Linked DNA regions of Homo sapiens: all the other regions are linked to region 2. Evidence: fine-mapped expression QTL. A gene starts in region 2. Each other region holds a variant in brackets. All regions are shown on one strand. Distances are between the middles of the regions. Region 1 overlaps FXYD5 (FXYD domain containing ion transport regulator 5). Region 2 holds the start of FXYD7 (FXYD domain containing ion transport regulator 7). Region 3 has its middle 33 kb from the start of FXYD5.

Region 1 (5,182 bases), 23 kb after region 2:
ATTATTGCTGCATACAAACCACCTAAAAACTCAGTGGCTTAAAAGGATAACCATTTATTTAGCTCTCATTTCTGCAATTTGGAAATCTAGGGTGTGCTCAGCTGGCTGGTTCTTCTGGTTTCAGCTGGACTTACTCATGCGTCTGAGGTCAGTTGTGGGTCAGCAAGGACCTCTGTTTCTAGGGGCAATTTGATTCTTTCCCTGGTGATCTTATCCACCACTTCCTGCCCAGTCAGCCCCCCAGTGAATGAATGGAAATGATACGCCCATGGGTCACATAGAGAGCCCATTCATCCATTCATTCAACAAATAGTCACTGAGTACTTGTGTGCTAGGCTAGTTCTAGGGGACAGAGATAGAGTGGTGAACAAGCCAGAAAAAATCTCTGCCCTCATGGAACTACTATTCTAGTGGTAAGAGAAACACAACAAGAAATAATCATAATTATGTATCAGTTGATTTCAACTTGCTATCAAGAAAAGTAAAGTAGGGTTAGAGAGTGACTGGGGAGTACAGGTTGAGTATTCCTTATCCAAAATGCTTTGGACCAGGAGACTTTCAGATTTCAGATTTTAGAATATTTGCATTATACTTACCAGTTCAACTTTCCTGACCCAAAAATCTGAAGTCCAAAATGTTCCAGTGGGCATTTCCTTTCGGTGTCATGTCAGACTGTTACTGGAAAGGGGTTCCGATCCAGACCCCAAGAAAGGGCTGTTGGATCTTGCACAAAAAAAGAATTCAGAGAGTCCATAGAGTTTATTTAGAAAGTAAAGGAATAAAGAATGGCTACTCTATAGGCAGAGCAGCCCCACAGGCTGCTGGTTGCCTGTTTTTATGGTTGTTTCTTCGTTATATGCTAAACAAGGGGTGGATTATTCATGAGTTTTCTGGGAAAGGGGTGGGCAATTCCCAGAACTGAGGATTCCTCCCCTTTTTATACTGTATAGGGTAACTTCCTGATGTTGCCATGGCATTTGAAACTGTCATGGTGCTGGTAGGAGTGCCTTTTAGCATGCTAATGTATTATAACTAATGTATAATGAGCTGTGAGGATGACCAGAGGTCACTGTCATTGCCATCTTGGTTTTGGTGGGTTTTAACTGGCTTCTTTACTGCAACCTGTTTTATCAGCAAGGCCTTTATGACCTGTATCTCGTGCCGACCTCCTATCTCATCCTGTGACTAACAATGTCTAACCTCTGGGGAATACAGCCCAGTAGGTCTCAGCCTTATTTTACCCTATTCGAGATGGAGTTGCTCTGGTTCAAACACCCCTGACATGACATCAAAAAGTGTCAGATTTGGGGACATTTTGGATTTTGGATTTGGGGATTAGGGATAGTCAACCTGTATTTCATATACAAAACCAGGGAGGGCCCCACTGGGAAGGGAGTGAAGGAGGGAGCCATGCGGATGTCTAGGGAAAGTGTGTTCCAGGCAGAGGAAACAGCCAGTGCAAAGGCCCTGAGGTGAGAAGGTGTCTGCATGTTCAACAGCAGGGAGGCCAGTAGGGCTGGAGTGCAGGGAGTGAGGGGGATAGGAAGGAAATGAGATTAGAGGAATAATGGGAGCCAGATTGTGTGCCATGGTGAAGATTTTGGGTTTTGTTCTAAGGGTACCCAGGTATCCCCCTTTCCTGACTTTGCCATTCACGTATTCACTTCACAAACCTTTGCTGAACCCTGACTTGCTCTTTGTCTGCCTCTCCAGGTTTTCATGAGGATGACCCCTTCTTCTATGGTAAGTTATCCACAGGAAGATGTGGGGGAAGGAAAGGTGAGGTCCGTCTGACTCTACCCCTTCATTTTTCTCTCTGCAGATGAACACACCCTCCGGAAACGGGGGCTGTTGGTCGCAGCTGTGCTGTTCATCACAGGCATCATCATCCTCACCAGTGAGAACTGGGGTTGGGTGGGAAGGACACCAAGACCAGGAGGGGGACTTATGACGGAGGGCTGGGTTCTCAAAGGTCCCTGGGCAATTTTGTTTTAAATGAGGTATCTATTAGCTGCATATACATACAAACCACCACAGAATTCAGTGGTTTAAAATAATGACCATTTATTGAGCTCTCAATACCACAGTTTGGAAACATAGGCTGGGCTCAGCTGGGTGATTCTTCTGGTCTCAACTGGATTTACTCTTGCATCTGAGTTCAGTTGTGGGTCAGCAGGAAACTTTGTTTCTGGGGTGCCTTGGCTCTTTGCCACATCATCTTATCCTTCACTAAGCTAGCCTGGGCTTGTTCGCATGGTGGTGGCAGGGATCTAAGATAGAGTGAATGCATGCAGGCTCAGAACTGGCCATTATCACTTCTGCCTCATTCCATAGGTCAAAGCAAGTCATGAGGCTGGGTTTCATTCAAGGAAATAGACTCCACCTCTTGATGGGAAGATAGGCAAAGTCACATGGCAAAGGACATGGATACTGACAGGGAGGGGTAGAGACTAAGGGCCATTTGGCGGTCAGCATACCACCCCAGCAGTCACAAGCCCACTGCACCCAGGCCTGGCAGGGAACAAGGGCTGAAAAAGGCTGTGTCAGGAGGAGATAACTGAGGATTAAATGCCTCATGGAACAACCCCACCCACTCAATCCAGCAAGAATAGAGGCTTGAAGCAGCCAGAGTAACTACTCTTTTAAGAGCTTAATGTTTCTGTAAAATCTTTTGGTACTCAAATGTTGACAGCTGTGTTGATCAGGGTCATGGCAGGTGGCAGAAGGACCTGCAAACGATTAACTGGAGAAAGTTTAATAGAGTGATATCTCTGGAGGTACAGGCAGGGCAATGAGATGGTGCAGTGCCCTAGGACTAGCAAGGATGGGGACCTGTTATCCCCCAGCCTGAGGGACAAGAGGAGGCACTGGCTTTGCAGGAGGCCTGGTGAGAGATGGAACTGGAGGTGGGGCTGCTGGCAGGAGCTGTGGCCTCAGAAAGAGGGTTCCAGCCACTGCCTCACTTGTGACCAAACCAGGAGGGAGCAGGGGTGGTGGGGATCAGATACCTAAACCTCCCTCTCCTCCCACCCCCCTGTCTCCTGCCAATGCTTAACCAGAGGGCAAGGGGCCCAGGGCCCCATGCAGGGAGAGGAAGTTGTGGGGAAAGGCAGAATAACAAGCAGAGAAACTAATTTTTTAAAAAGGTTTTTAAAATGTTGTGGGTGAAATAAAACACGAGCTATCAGTTAATCTGTATAACCAATGCCAAGTTTCATTACCTCTCTTGTCCAACTTCCTCATCAAGAAAATGAGCATAGCCACATCTTTTTTTGCCTTAAGGGGAGAGGCAGAAT[T/C]CTAACAATCATAAGACATGATTCCTGATGTGTGCGTGATCCCCACTGAATCTGAGAGTCAAGCACTGTTGCCTCGGTCATACAACATGTATGTGTTGATCCTGACTTTGCACCAGGTCCTATTCTCACCCCAGTGGAGAAGTTAAGGCTCAGAGAGTTAAGGAGTTTGCCTAAGGTCACACAGCACAGAAGAGTCAGTAAATTCATTTGCTGGCGGGACACGGTGGCTCACTCCTGTAATCCCAGTACTTTGGGAGGCCAAGGTGGGAGGATGGCTTGAGCCCAGGGGTTCAAGACCAGCATGGGCAAAATAGCAAGACCCTATCTCTACACAAATAATTTTTTTTACTTAAAAAAAAAAAAGAATCAGTGAAGGATTGGACCCAGGTTTGTGTGAGAGCAGAGCCTGAACGTTAGCTCTGGGGCCATGTATTTTTCCAACAGCAAATATTTGTGGGCTCCTAGTCTGTGCCAAACCTGTGCTGGGTGATGCTGGGGGCATGGTGGTGACAAGCAGCCCTGGTCCCTGTCCTCAGGAGCTCACATCTGGTCGAAGATGATAAGCAAATAAATGCATGAATGAGTGGATACAGAGAAAGATATTTGCCAAATAAAGCAGAGTGACAGGGAAGAGAGGGGTGGGGAGAGAAGCCCTCCCTGGAGTGGTGAAATTGGAACTGATCCCTGATGATGAGATGAATCACCAGGTAGAGAGAGCAGCAAGTGCCAAGCCCTGGAGGCAGGAATGAGCTGCGCCCATTGCTATAGCAGCAGAGGAGGCAAAGTAGCCAGGACAGGGTAGGTTGGGGGAGAGGAGAAGACGAGGCCAGAGAGCTGAGGGGCTGGAGGAGGCAAGGGTGGCAGGTGTTTTCTAAAGTACCCTTGGCTTCTAAGTTCCCCCTCCCTCACTCTGGAGCAGCCACAGATGAGTCTCTGGAACCCATCTGTGTCCTCGTACCTCAAGGCCTTTGCGCTGCTGTTCCCTCTGCCTGTAACACCCTTCCTCCAGGTGTCTCCCTTACGTCCTTCAGACCTTTGTTCAAATGTCACCTCCTTGGCAGGCCACAGTGGTTCACGTATGTAATCCCAGGACTTTGGGAGGCTGAGGCAGGTGGATCCCTTGAGGCCAGGAGTTCAAGACCAGCTTGGCCAACATGGTGAAACCCTGTCTTTACTAAAAATACAAAAATTAGCTGGGCTTGGTGGCACATGCCTGTCATCCCAGCTACTCGGGAGGCTGAGGCGGGAGAATCGCTTGAATCCAGGAGGTGGGGGTTGCAGTGAGCTGAGATTGTGCCACTGCATTCCAGCCTGGGTGACACAGCAAGACTCTGTCTCAAAAAAAAAAAAAAAAAGTAACCTCCTCATTGAAGCCCCAGTAGCCATCCCTGTGAGGATGAGCCCAGCTCCTGGGCCTCCATGCCTCCTTCCTGGCCTTATTTCCCTTTGTAGGACTTAACACCCTCCCACTTAGCACCTTCATACATTTGATTTTGTAATTTTTCTCCTTGTTGGTCTTTCCCCATAGAAAGACAACTCTGCCAGGGCAGGGATTTTTTTCTTTGTCCTCAACTGTGTTCTTAGTGCCTGAATGAATGAATAAGTGAGATACAAAATAATGGGAGTTTCCAAACGGCTCATCTGTGAGCCTGTGTGGGAAGGGCCTCTCGCAGGGCCCCAGCACTGGCTGTTCTCGGTGTGTTTCTCCATCATTTGTTTATGGAGTTGCCTTTGAGTTTCCCGAGGGGCAGGGTTGATCAATCTGGTTCCCCAGCCCCACAACACACGATAAGAATCAATATCACTCTAGCTCGTGACTGAATCATTTCCTTCACCCACAGGTGGCAAGTGCAGGCAGCTGTCCCGGTTATGCCGGAATCGTTGCA
Region 2 (5,225 bases):
CCTGCTCTGCTGCTCACAGACTACCAGTCCCTGCAGATCGGAGGCCTCGTCATCGCCGGGATCCTCTTCATCCTGGGCATCCTCATCGTGCTGAGTGAGTGCCCCTAGCTCCCGCCCTCTACCCCGCCTCTCCCTGGCCCCACCTCTCTCTGGCCCCGCCTCTCCCTGGCCCCGCCTCTCCCTAGCCCCCCTCTCCCTGGCCCCGCTTCTCCCTGGTCCCGCCCCTCCCTGGCCCCGCCCCGCCCCAACCCCTCCCAGGCCTTGCCCCGCCTACCCTGCCTTGGTTCCCCGGCCCCCGGTCTCGCCTCTAGCCCCGCCCCGTCCCCCAAGCCCCGCCCCTCGCGAGGGCGAGCTGGAGCTACAGCGCCGCTTGGCGCCCGCCGGGAGGGAGCCTCAGCTTCTCCTACCTCTCCACGCCCACAGGCAGAAGATGCCGGTGCAAGTTCAACCAGCAGCAGAGGTAAGACGCCCCTCCCCGCCCTCCTTCGCCCGCTCCTGCTCTGGAGGGCGCCGCGGGTGAGGCGGGGAGTACCCCTGACCCGCAGCCCGATCCCCGTCAGCGACTATGTATTAAGCACCTACTATGTGCCATGGCCCAAGCCTGGCCCTGGGACCAAGCGAGGAAAAAACCTCCCGCCCTTCCTGGCCGAGCTCCCAGCCTAGTGGAGGCGGTGGCCGTGGGTTCCAACAGCCCCACAGATAGAAAAATCACAAAGCGTGATAACACAAAGTGCAGGAAAGAAGAAACGGCGGTGAAATGAGATCATCTCACACGCGGCCCAGTTTAGCTTAGAGTCTTGTTCCTAGCTCTTTGATTCCTCTTCGAATAAAATGTTAAAGCATGGACAATGTATGAATATGTTAGAACAATTATAGATATTATCATAAGTAGTAGCTAATATTTACTGGGTGTGTACCACGTGTTAGATACGGTTTCACTTCCTCTGGGAGGGAGGTGCTGTTATTAACCCCATTTGACAGATGAGGAAACTAAGGCACAGGGAGGTAAAGTCACTTTGTTCAAGATCACTCAAGTGGAAGATGGGGGGTTCTGGGTTTCCAACCCAGGCCATCTCATGGCAGTCTGCCAAGTCCCCATGACTATCCCTCCCCCACCAACTTCACATCCCTGCCCCCAAATCCGCGGAGGTACTCACTGTTAACCAGCTTAGAAGCCCCCTGCCAGCACATAAGCTGCTCCTGGGTGCTCCTCATTTCTGGCGGACCCCGAGCCTGCTCTTCGTCCATATCTGGGCCTAGTTACACCAATCTGGGAAAGGAGGCTTGTACTGGGGGGTTCCTAGAAGGGCAGCCTCTCCCCCTTTCCATCCCGAAATCCCTCTGCCTCTGTCTTCCCAGGACTGGGGAACCCGATGAAGAGGAGGGAACTTTCCGCAGCTCCATCCGCCGTGAGTCTGGGGAGACTGCGGGTATTCTGGGGAGAGGGCTGGTTCCAAGGACCGCTTTTCCCGGCCCTCCCTGGCTGCGTAGAGGGAAGGGCTGGATCTGAAAGCGGAGGGCGGGGAGTTGCCCCGCCGCGGGCCCCACCTGCCCAGGAGCTGGGGATGCCTCTCCAGAATGACCCCCGATCTCCGTGTTCCCCCCAGGTCTGTCCACCCGCAGGCGGTAGAAACACCTGGAGCGATGGAATCCGGCCAGGTGCTGCAGCTCTGACACGGCGGTGGGAGGGAAGGAGGGAGGAAGGAAAGGCGGGAGAGGGAGGGGGCCAAGTGCCAGAGTTGAAGGGCGGCGAGGGGTGGGGCTGGACGTCCCCCCTCGCCTCTCACCCTTTTCACCCTCACAGGACTCCCCTGGCACCTGACATCTCCCACGCTCCACCTGCGCGCCCACCGCCCCCTCCGCCGCCCCTTCCCCAGCCCTGCCCCCGCAGACTCCCCCTGCCGCCAAGACTTCCAATAAAACGTGCGTTCCTCTCGACAGCACTTTGTCGGTCTCGGTCCCTCAGCGCGAAACGCCAGCGCCACTGGGCCCCAGCAGGGGGCGCCCCACCCTAGAGGAAGGGGCGGGGACGACGGTGGTGGGCGGGGGCGGGGGCGGGGGTGGCCTGCACGGGGGCGGGCTCCCCGGGCCCCCATTGGCTGCAGGCCCCCCCACGCCAGGGCTCCCCCCAGCTCCCCCCCACATCGGTCCGTCCTGCTTCCAGCTGCTGCAGCGCGCCTTCGCCGCCAAAGCATCCAGCAGCCCCCTGCTCCGGCCCAGCATGGCGACCCCGACCCAGACCCCCACAAAGGGTGAGCGTCGTTTGGGGAGGGGGTTGCAGGGGGGCTCCGGGATCTGAGAGCCTAGGAGAGAGGGTGTCGGGAGATTCAAGCAATGGTAAGGCAAGGGAGTTGGGGGAGGGAGGTCCGCTCCTCCTGTGGGCGGAAGCCCCTGTAATGCGCCCCCCCGATCGCCCCTCCGGGTCTCTGGGACACCCCCTCCCCGGCAGGCGTCCTGTGCCAGACCTGCGGTTGGAGAGTGGCAGTCCCGGGAGAAGGGATGCTCGGACAGGTCGCTATGGCAACCGGGTGGCTGGTCCCGCACCGTGGTGGTAGCAGACGGGGAAGAGATGAGCTTGCAGGGTGGGAGCGGGTGGGTCTGCGACCAGAGACGTTCTGGAAGATTTCAGGGTCCCTGGGGTGGGCAAGGGAAGGGGAGGAGGTTCATGTCCCTCTTCTTTCCAGTGCTGTCTCCTAGGGTGTCTGTTTCCTGAAACCCTTGACAGCCAGGTTCAGAGGAAAGGAGTGAGAGCTGAAGGAAGAGACAGAGAGAAGGGATATAGCAAGAGACAGACAGGGAGAACCTGGAAGAGACAGAGACCAAGAGAGGCAGGAGATCCAGAGTCACAGATACAAAGACCCAGGAAGACAAATAGATGGACTCAGAGAGATTCCCAGTGGAGGGGAGAGGCTGAGAGCAGTAGACAGAGATGCAGAGAGAGAGAGAAAAAAAAATGAGAGCCTGGGAGATAGTGGGATTGAGACCGCTATGGAGAGAGAAGCAGAGAGACGGAGGGAGAGAGACGGACCCATGGGGAGAGAGGGGAGTAGAAAGAGAAGAAGGGAGCCATGTGGGGTGGGGCCCAAACCACTGCAGTGAGACCCTATGTGTGGGAATGGGGCGATGGGACCCTCCTTCCAGCCCACAGCAGGGGTGTTTTCCAATCCCAGAGGTGCTGTTGGGTATACACCTAGCTGCCCCTACTGCCCCCATCCAGCCACACACTGATTTCCATTCCACACCAATTAACCCAGTTATGCACCCACTTAAACACCCACTTCTACCGTCGCCCCCTAATAGCCCCCACTGCTAATCCTGCTTCTGCAGATGAGCAAGGCACAGACTGCTTCAAGAGGGAGCCAGTGCCCAGCAAGGGTCTCCAGCACTGAGGGCAGGGGACCAGGGGTGCTGAGAAGCCCCTGGCAGTGAAGGGAACCCGAATTCCACTTGGATGGCTCCCTCCCTTCCGCGCTTCCCAGCAGGCGGGGGCTGCTGCACTGAGCCATATCTGCAGAATCCGAAGCAGGGCGGGGGGTGGGGGGGGCTGCAGAGGCTGGAAGCTACCCTAGGGAGGGGGGCAGGGCTGAGGCAGCAGGCCTGGCGGGAGCCCAGGGCTTCTTTTTGCAGAGGTGGTGGTTAGCAGGATCGATGGCAGCAGACGGGCAGAGGTGGGAGGACAGACTCCTCAACCCAACCTCCTCTGCCTCCCCCTTTCCCAGTCACAGCATGACAGGGGACCGCAGGTCTCGGGAAACCCCGGGGGAGGAAAAGCATGTTGTGCATTGCAAGCTGCTTAAGGAAACTAATTAATGAATTGTTGGGGAGCGAGGGGGGAAGAGGGGAGAGTCTCCCTCCACCCTGCCAGAGAACAGGAGGGAGAGTTAGGAGTGAACAGAAGAGGGATGCATGAGCACAGCTGGGTCCGGGTCCCTATCCCTGAAATGGACCCTTAGCTTGGCCAGAAGCCAGTCCTGCAGGGGCAACGGCAGGAGGTGCAAAAGGAGGGGAGAGGGTCAAGATTGAAACCTGCATCTCACACAGGACCTCACAGGGGACCCCACCCAGCCTGGGGTGGCGGGACCTATCACCTCTCTTCACCTCCCAAGATGCCCCAGTTGCCATAGCAACCACCTCCTTCCTGATATCTCTTTGGCAGCTGGCCAGGAGTAGTGCACATTCCTTTGCCTGACTCCTGGCCCCACCCTTAGCCCAGCCACGCCTGAGGGCCCAGGTTGCCGGGGCAGCAGGGACCAGAGGAGGATCTTCCGCATGGAGGAGGATCTTCCACATGGAACACCAGATTCTGGGACAGGGGCTCACCCAGTGGGCTCCCGATAACTTTGGGGAAGGACGGGTGTGTGGAAAACAGACAAGTGAGACAATCCACCTTTTACAGCCTCCTGCAGCCTAGGACTGCCTCATAATCATTCCTTCATTCATTCATCCCAGAAAACTTGAAGAGCCTTTCATAAATGTCAGGATGAACAGCAGTGATGAGTCAAACAAATTTACTCTCTGGTGGGGAAACTTACACAGAGCACAAGGGACCCTGAAGCAGCGTCTCACCATCTTGGCGCTTTTGAGTACTACCGTCACAATTTTTGCTTTATTCAAATATTCCTCACACTGCTATTTATTTAATTTTTTTCCTTAAAAGGATTAGCTTTTTTATTTTTATTTTTTGAGACAAGGTCTCACTCTGTCGCCTAGGCTGGAGTGCAATGGCACGATCACAGCTCACTGCAGCCTCAACATCCTGGGCTCAATCTATCCTCCTGCCTCAGCCTCCCAAGTAGCTGGGACTACAAGGCACTTCTGCTACACCCAGCTAATTTTTGTATTTTTCATAGAGACTGCTTTTGCTATGTTTCCCAGCCTGGTCTCAAACTTCTGGGCTCAAGCAATTCACCCACTTTGGCTTCCCAAAGTGCTTAGGATGACAGGCGTGGGCCACCATGCCCAACCCAGGATTAGCTTTTGAAAACAACGAGCTTTATTTTATAGCACCATCACAACTGGAAAATTAATCTTCTTTTTTTTTTTGAGACAGAGTCTCGCTCTGTCATCCAGGCTGGAGTGCAGTGGCACGATCTTGGCTTACTGCAACCTCTGCCTCCCGGGTTCAAGCAATTCTTCTGCCTCAGCCTCCCAAGTAGCTGGGACTAGCAGCGGCACACCACCACACCCAGCTAATTTTTGTATTGTTAGTACAGATGGGGTTTCAC
Region 3 (5,225 bases), 44 kb after region 2:
AAGCTAAGAAAGTTGATATCATAGAAGTAGAGAATGTAATAGTGGTTACTAGAGGCTGGATAGGGGTTGAAGGGGATAGGAAGATGTTGGCAAATGGATACACAATTACAGCTAGATAGGAAAAATAACTTCCAGCATTCCTTAGCACTGTAGGATGACTATAATTAGCAATGATTTATTGCACCATTCCTCAGGACAATCAACCAGTCTGCTGATGGCTAATTAATTACGTCGAACTGTCTCTTTTTTAATTTTCTTTTCTTTTTTGAGACAGAGTCTCGCTCTTGTCACCTAGGCTTGAGTGCAATGGAACAATCTCGGCTCATTGCAACCTCCACCTCCCAGGTTCAAGAGATTCTCCTGCCTCAGCCTCCTGAGTAGCTGGGATTATAGGCATCCATCACCACACCCAGCTAATTTTCATATTTTTAGTGAAGACAGGGTTTCATCATGTTGGCCAGGCTGGTCTCAAACTGCTGACCTCAGGTGTTCCACCCATCGCAGCCTCCCAAAATGTTGGGATTACAGGTGTGAGCCACTGCGCCCAGCCACATTGAACTGTTCCTGTCATGGAAAGGGCAACTCTTTTTTCTTATTTTAATTTTTTAATTTTTGTAATAGAATTCGCTTACCATACAATTCACATGCCATACAGTTCACACATTTAAAGCATACAAGCCGATCTGATTATTTCACATTGCATGCCTGTATCAAAACATCTCATGTTCTCCATAAATAAATACACCTATGATGTACCCACAGCAATTAAAAATTTTTAAAAATCATGTACAAGTCAATGGTTTTTAGTATATCCATAGATATGTACAGCCATCATCACGATCAATTTAAAAACATTTTTTTTTTTTGAGAGAGAGTCTTGCTCTGTCACCCAGGCTGGAGTGCAGTGGCATGATCACGGCTCACTGCAAACTTGGCCTCCCGGGTTTACGCCTTTCTCCTGCCTCAGCCTCCCGAGTAGCTGGGACTACAGGTGCCCGCCACCACGCCCAGCTAATTTTTTGTATTTTTAGTAGAGCCGGGATTTCACCATGTTAGCCAGGATTGTCTCGATCTCCTGACCTCGTGATCCACCTGCCTCGGCCTCCCAAAGCGCTGGGATTACAGGTGTGAGCCACCGTGCCCAGACCAATTTTAAAATATTTTTATCACCCCCACAAAAGAAACCCAATGCTCCATAGCTATTTTCCTCCTGTTCCCAAATGTCTCAGCCCTAAGCAACCACTAGTCTACTCTCTGTCTCTATATATTTTCCTATTTTGGACATTTCATATAAATGTATTCATATAATATGTGGTGTCTTGTGATTGGCTTCTTTCACTGAATGTAATGTCTTCAAGGTTCATCCGCATCATAGCATGTATCAGTACTATGTTCCTTTCTATGGCTGAATAATATTTCATTGTGTGGATTTACCACATATTGGGGTTTTTTTTGTTTTTTTTTTTACAGACCCCGCCCCCCCAAATATTGTTTATGCCTCCATCAGTTTGTAGATATTTGGTTTTGTTTTCACCTTTTGGCTATTATGAATAATATGAAAATAAACTTATGTATTTGTTATTATGTGGACATAAGTTTTCATTTCTCTTAGGAATAAAATTGCTGGGTCAAATGGTGACTGCATTTTTAACAGTTTGAGGAACTACTGGACTGTTTTCCATAGTGGCTGCAGTGATGAGGTGTGGTGGCTCACGCCTGTGATCCCAGCATTTTGGGAGGCCGAGGGGGGCAGATCATCTAAGGTCAGGAGTACGAGACCAGCCTGGCCAACATGGCGAAACCCCGTCTCTACTAAAAATACAAAAATTAGCCTGGCGTGCTGGCAGGCACCTCTAATCCCAACTACTCGGGAACCTGAGGCAAGATAATCCCCTTGAACCTGGGAGGCAGAGGTTGCAGTGAACCGAGATCACACTGCTGCATTCCAGCCTGGGCAACAGAGGGAGACTCTGTCTCAAAAGAAAAAAAAAGTTTTGTTGAACTAACTCATGAAGCCATCTGGTTTAAGACTTTTCTGTGTCCATTAAAATGATCATGTGGTTTTGTAATTTATTCTGTTGATATGGTGTATTACACTAATTTTCAGATGTGAAGCCACTGTTACATTCCTGGAATAAGTCCCACTTGGTCGTGGTCTATAACACTTTTTATATGTCTCTGGATTTAGTTTGCTAGTATTGTGTTAAGGATATTTGCATTTATATTTATAAGAGATATTTGTCTGTAGTTTTCTTGTGTCTTTCTCTGGTTTTTGTACTGGGGTAATACTGGTCCCAAATAATCCACTGGAAAGCGTTGCCTCCTTTTTTTAATTTTTGCAAGAGTTTGAGAAGAATTGGTATTAGCTCTTCTTTAAATTTTTAGAAAAATCTGCCAGTGAAGCTATCTGGTTCTTGGTGTGTGTGTGTGTGTGTGTGTGTGTGTGTGTGTGTATGTGTGTGTGTGTCTTTGGTCATTAATTCAATCTCTTTACTTATTAGAGGACTATTCAAATTGTCTGATTTCTCTTGAATCAGTTTCAGTAGTATATGTCTTCTAATAATTTATTTCAACTGGGCGCAGTGGCTCACGCCAGTCCCAACACTTTGAAAGGCCAAGGCAGGTGGATCACTTGAGGTCAGGAGTTCGAGACCAGCCTGGCCAACATGGTGAAACCCCATTTCTGCTAAAAATACAAAAATTAGCCAGGCATGGTGGTGGGTACCTGTAATCCCAGCTACTTTGGAGGCTGAGCAGGATAATCGCTTGAATCCGGGAGGC[T/A]GAGGTTGCAGTGAGCCAAAATCACACCACTGCACTCCATCCTGGGCGACAGAGCAAGACTTCATCTCAAAAAAAAAAAAAAAAAAAAAGAATTTACGGCCAGCACGATGGCTCATGCCTGTAATCCCAGCACTTTGGGAGGCTGAGGAGGGTGGATCACTAGGTCAGGAGTTCAAGACCAGCCTGGCCTCAAGACCAGCCTGGCCAACATAGTGAAACCCTGTCTCTACTAAAAATACAAAAAAATTAGCCAAGAGTGGTGGCGGGCGCCTGTAGTCCCAGCTATTTGGGAGGCTGAGGCAGGAGAATCGCTTGAACCCAGGAGGTGGAGATTGCAGATCGCCACCATGCCTGGCTAATTTTTGTATTTTTAGTAGAGACAGGGTTTCGCCATGTTGGCCAGGCTGGTCTCGAACTCCTGACCTCAGGTGATCCTCTCACCTGAACCTCCCAAAGTTCTATGATTACAGGCATGAGCCACTGTGCCCAGCCGCATGATTTTGATTTTAATTTTAAAATCAAAATTTTATACAGATTTGTTTTGTTGCCTAGTGCAGGTTCTATCCTACAGAATATTCTCCGTGCAGTCGAGAAGATTGTGTATTCTGCTTTTGTTGGGAGAAGTGTGCTATAGTTGTCTGTTATATCTGGTTGATTAATACTGTTCAGATCTTCCATTTTCTTGTTGATTTTATGCCTAGTTGTTCTATCCATTATTGGAAGTGAGGTACTGAAGTCTCCAACTATTATTGTGGATTTGTTCATTTCTCTATTCATTTTTATTAGTTTTTGCTTTATGTATTTTGGTGCTTTATTATTAGATGTATATGTGTTTATATTGTTATATATTCTGATGGACTGACCGCCTTATCATTATACAATGCTTCTCTTTATCTGTAATAACTTTTTTGTTACAAAGCTTATTTTTTCTGACGTTAGTATTGCCACTCCAGCTTTCTTGTAGTCACTGCATGATATATTGATATATTGTCTTTCATCATTTTACTTTACATTTTTGAATCTTACATGTTTTTCCTATAGATAGCTTTTGGCTGTATCTTGGTTTTTAAAAAAAATCTAGTCTGAAATATTTGACTTTTAATTGAATTGTTCATTTCATCAACATTTAATGTTATTATTTATACAATTGGATTTACATCTGCCATATTAGCTTGTGTTTCCTACAAAATTTCTTTATTAGTGCCAGGGGTTTTTTGTTTTATTTATTGATTGATTTTATATTTATTGAGATTTTCTACATAAACAATCATTTCAACTGGGGATGGGAACAGTTTTATTTTTTCCTTCCCAATCTATATGCCTCTTACTTCCATTTCTTGACTTATTACACTGGCTAAGACTTTCAATATGATGTTGAATAGAAATGGTGAACATGCTTGTCTTGTTCCCAATCTTAAGAAAGAAAGCATTCATTTTTCACTGTTTGGTATGATATTAGCTGTAGGCTTTTTGATGCTCTTTATCAGGTTGATGAAGTTCTCTTCTATTCCTAGTTTGCTAGGATTATTTTTTGCAAAACAAAACAAAACATGTATGAGTGTTTTATTTTGTCAATACTTTGTCTGCACCTATTGATATAATCATGATTTTTCTTCTTTAGATGGTTAATATGGTAATAGTGATTGATTTTAAAAAATTGGACCATTGTTGCATTCTTAGTATAAATCCCATTTGGTCATAGTTTATTGTATTTATTCATTTATTATTATTATTATTTTGAGACAGAGTTTCACTCTTGTTGCCCAGGCTGGAGTGCAATGGCAGGATCTCGGCTCACCCCAACCTCTGCCTCCTGGGTTCAAGTGATTCTCCTGCCTCATCCTCCTAAGTAGCTGGGATTACAGGCTGTGCACCACCATGCCTGGCTAATTTTGTATTTTTAGTAGAGATGAGTTTTCTCCATGTTGGTCAGTCTGGTCTTGAACTCCTGATCTCAGGTGATCCGCCCACCTCAGACTCCCAAAGTGCTGGGATTACAGGTGTGAGCCACCGCGCCCGGCCGGTCATAGTTTACTACTCATTTTACATATTGCCGAGTTCAATTTGCTAACATTTTATTGAGTATTTTTGCATCTATATTCATGAGGAGTATTTTAGTTGTGTTTATTATTATTTTTTGTACTGTCTATCTGGTTTGTCATCAGGGTAATGCTGGCTTCATAACATGAGTTGGAGAGTATTTCTCCTTTTGTATTTTCTGGAAGAAATTATGAAGAATTAGTGCTATTTCTTCTTTAAATTACTTATTTAAAACCATTGAAACCACCTGGGCCAGGAGATTTTTTAAAATGGCATTAACTATACATGCAATTTATTTAATAGTTACTAGACTATTCATATTATCTATTTCAACAGTGGTGAATGTAGTAGCTGGTAGTTTTTGAGAAATTGGTCCATTTCATCTAAATTTTGATATTTATGTG

Evidence for each region. PIP is the estimated chance that this variant, and not a neighbour inherited with it, causes the effect. A credible set is the group of variants that fine-mapping cannot tell apart.
Region 1: its variant is the best candidate, but not a certain one, in a credible set for the expression of FXYD7 in whole blood (INTERVAL, PIP 0.83).
Region 3: its variant is the best candidate, but not a certain one, in a credible set for the expression of FXYD7 in blood mononuclear cells (TOPMed, PIP 0.54).

What each region holds. Positions count from the first base shown.
Region 1 is chr19:35,164,429-35,169,610 of GRCh38, forward strand. It overlaps FXYD5 (FXYD domain containing ion transport regulator 5), which reads left to right. Exons shown (of 9, transcript NM_014164.6): 7 at 1,714-1,743; 8 at 1,823-1,897; 9 at 5,138-5,182. Among named protein-coding and RNA genes, the nearest start is that of FXYD5, 12 kb to the left of the region's middle. The variant T/C (reference allele first, on the strand shown) is at 3,297.
Region 2 is chr19:35,141,113-35,146,337 of GRCh38, forward strand. FXYD7 (FXYD domain containing ion transport regulator 7) reads left to right here and starts at 2,143. Exons shown (of 6, transcript NM_022006.2): 1 at 2,143-2,252. The coding sequence starts at 2,222. FXYD1 (FXYD domain containing ion transport regulator 1) reads left to right here. Exons shown (of 8, transcript NM_021902.4): 4 at 20-94; 5 at 424-460; 6 at 1,360-1,409; 7 at 1,608-1,659; 8 at 1,805-1,997. The coding sequence ends at 1,630. RefSeq lists silencers at 24-153, 264-483 and enhancers at 118-680, 1,804-2,364, 2,365-2,926.
Region 3 is chr19:35,185,455-35,190,679 of GRCh38, forward strand. No RefSeq gene overlaps it. Among named protein-coding and RNA genes, the nearest start is that of FXYD5, 33 kb to the left of the region's middle. The variant T/A (reference allele first, on the strand shown) is at 2,782.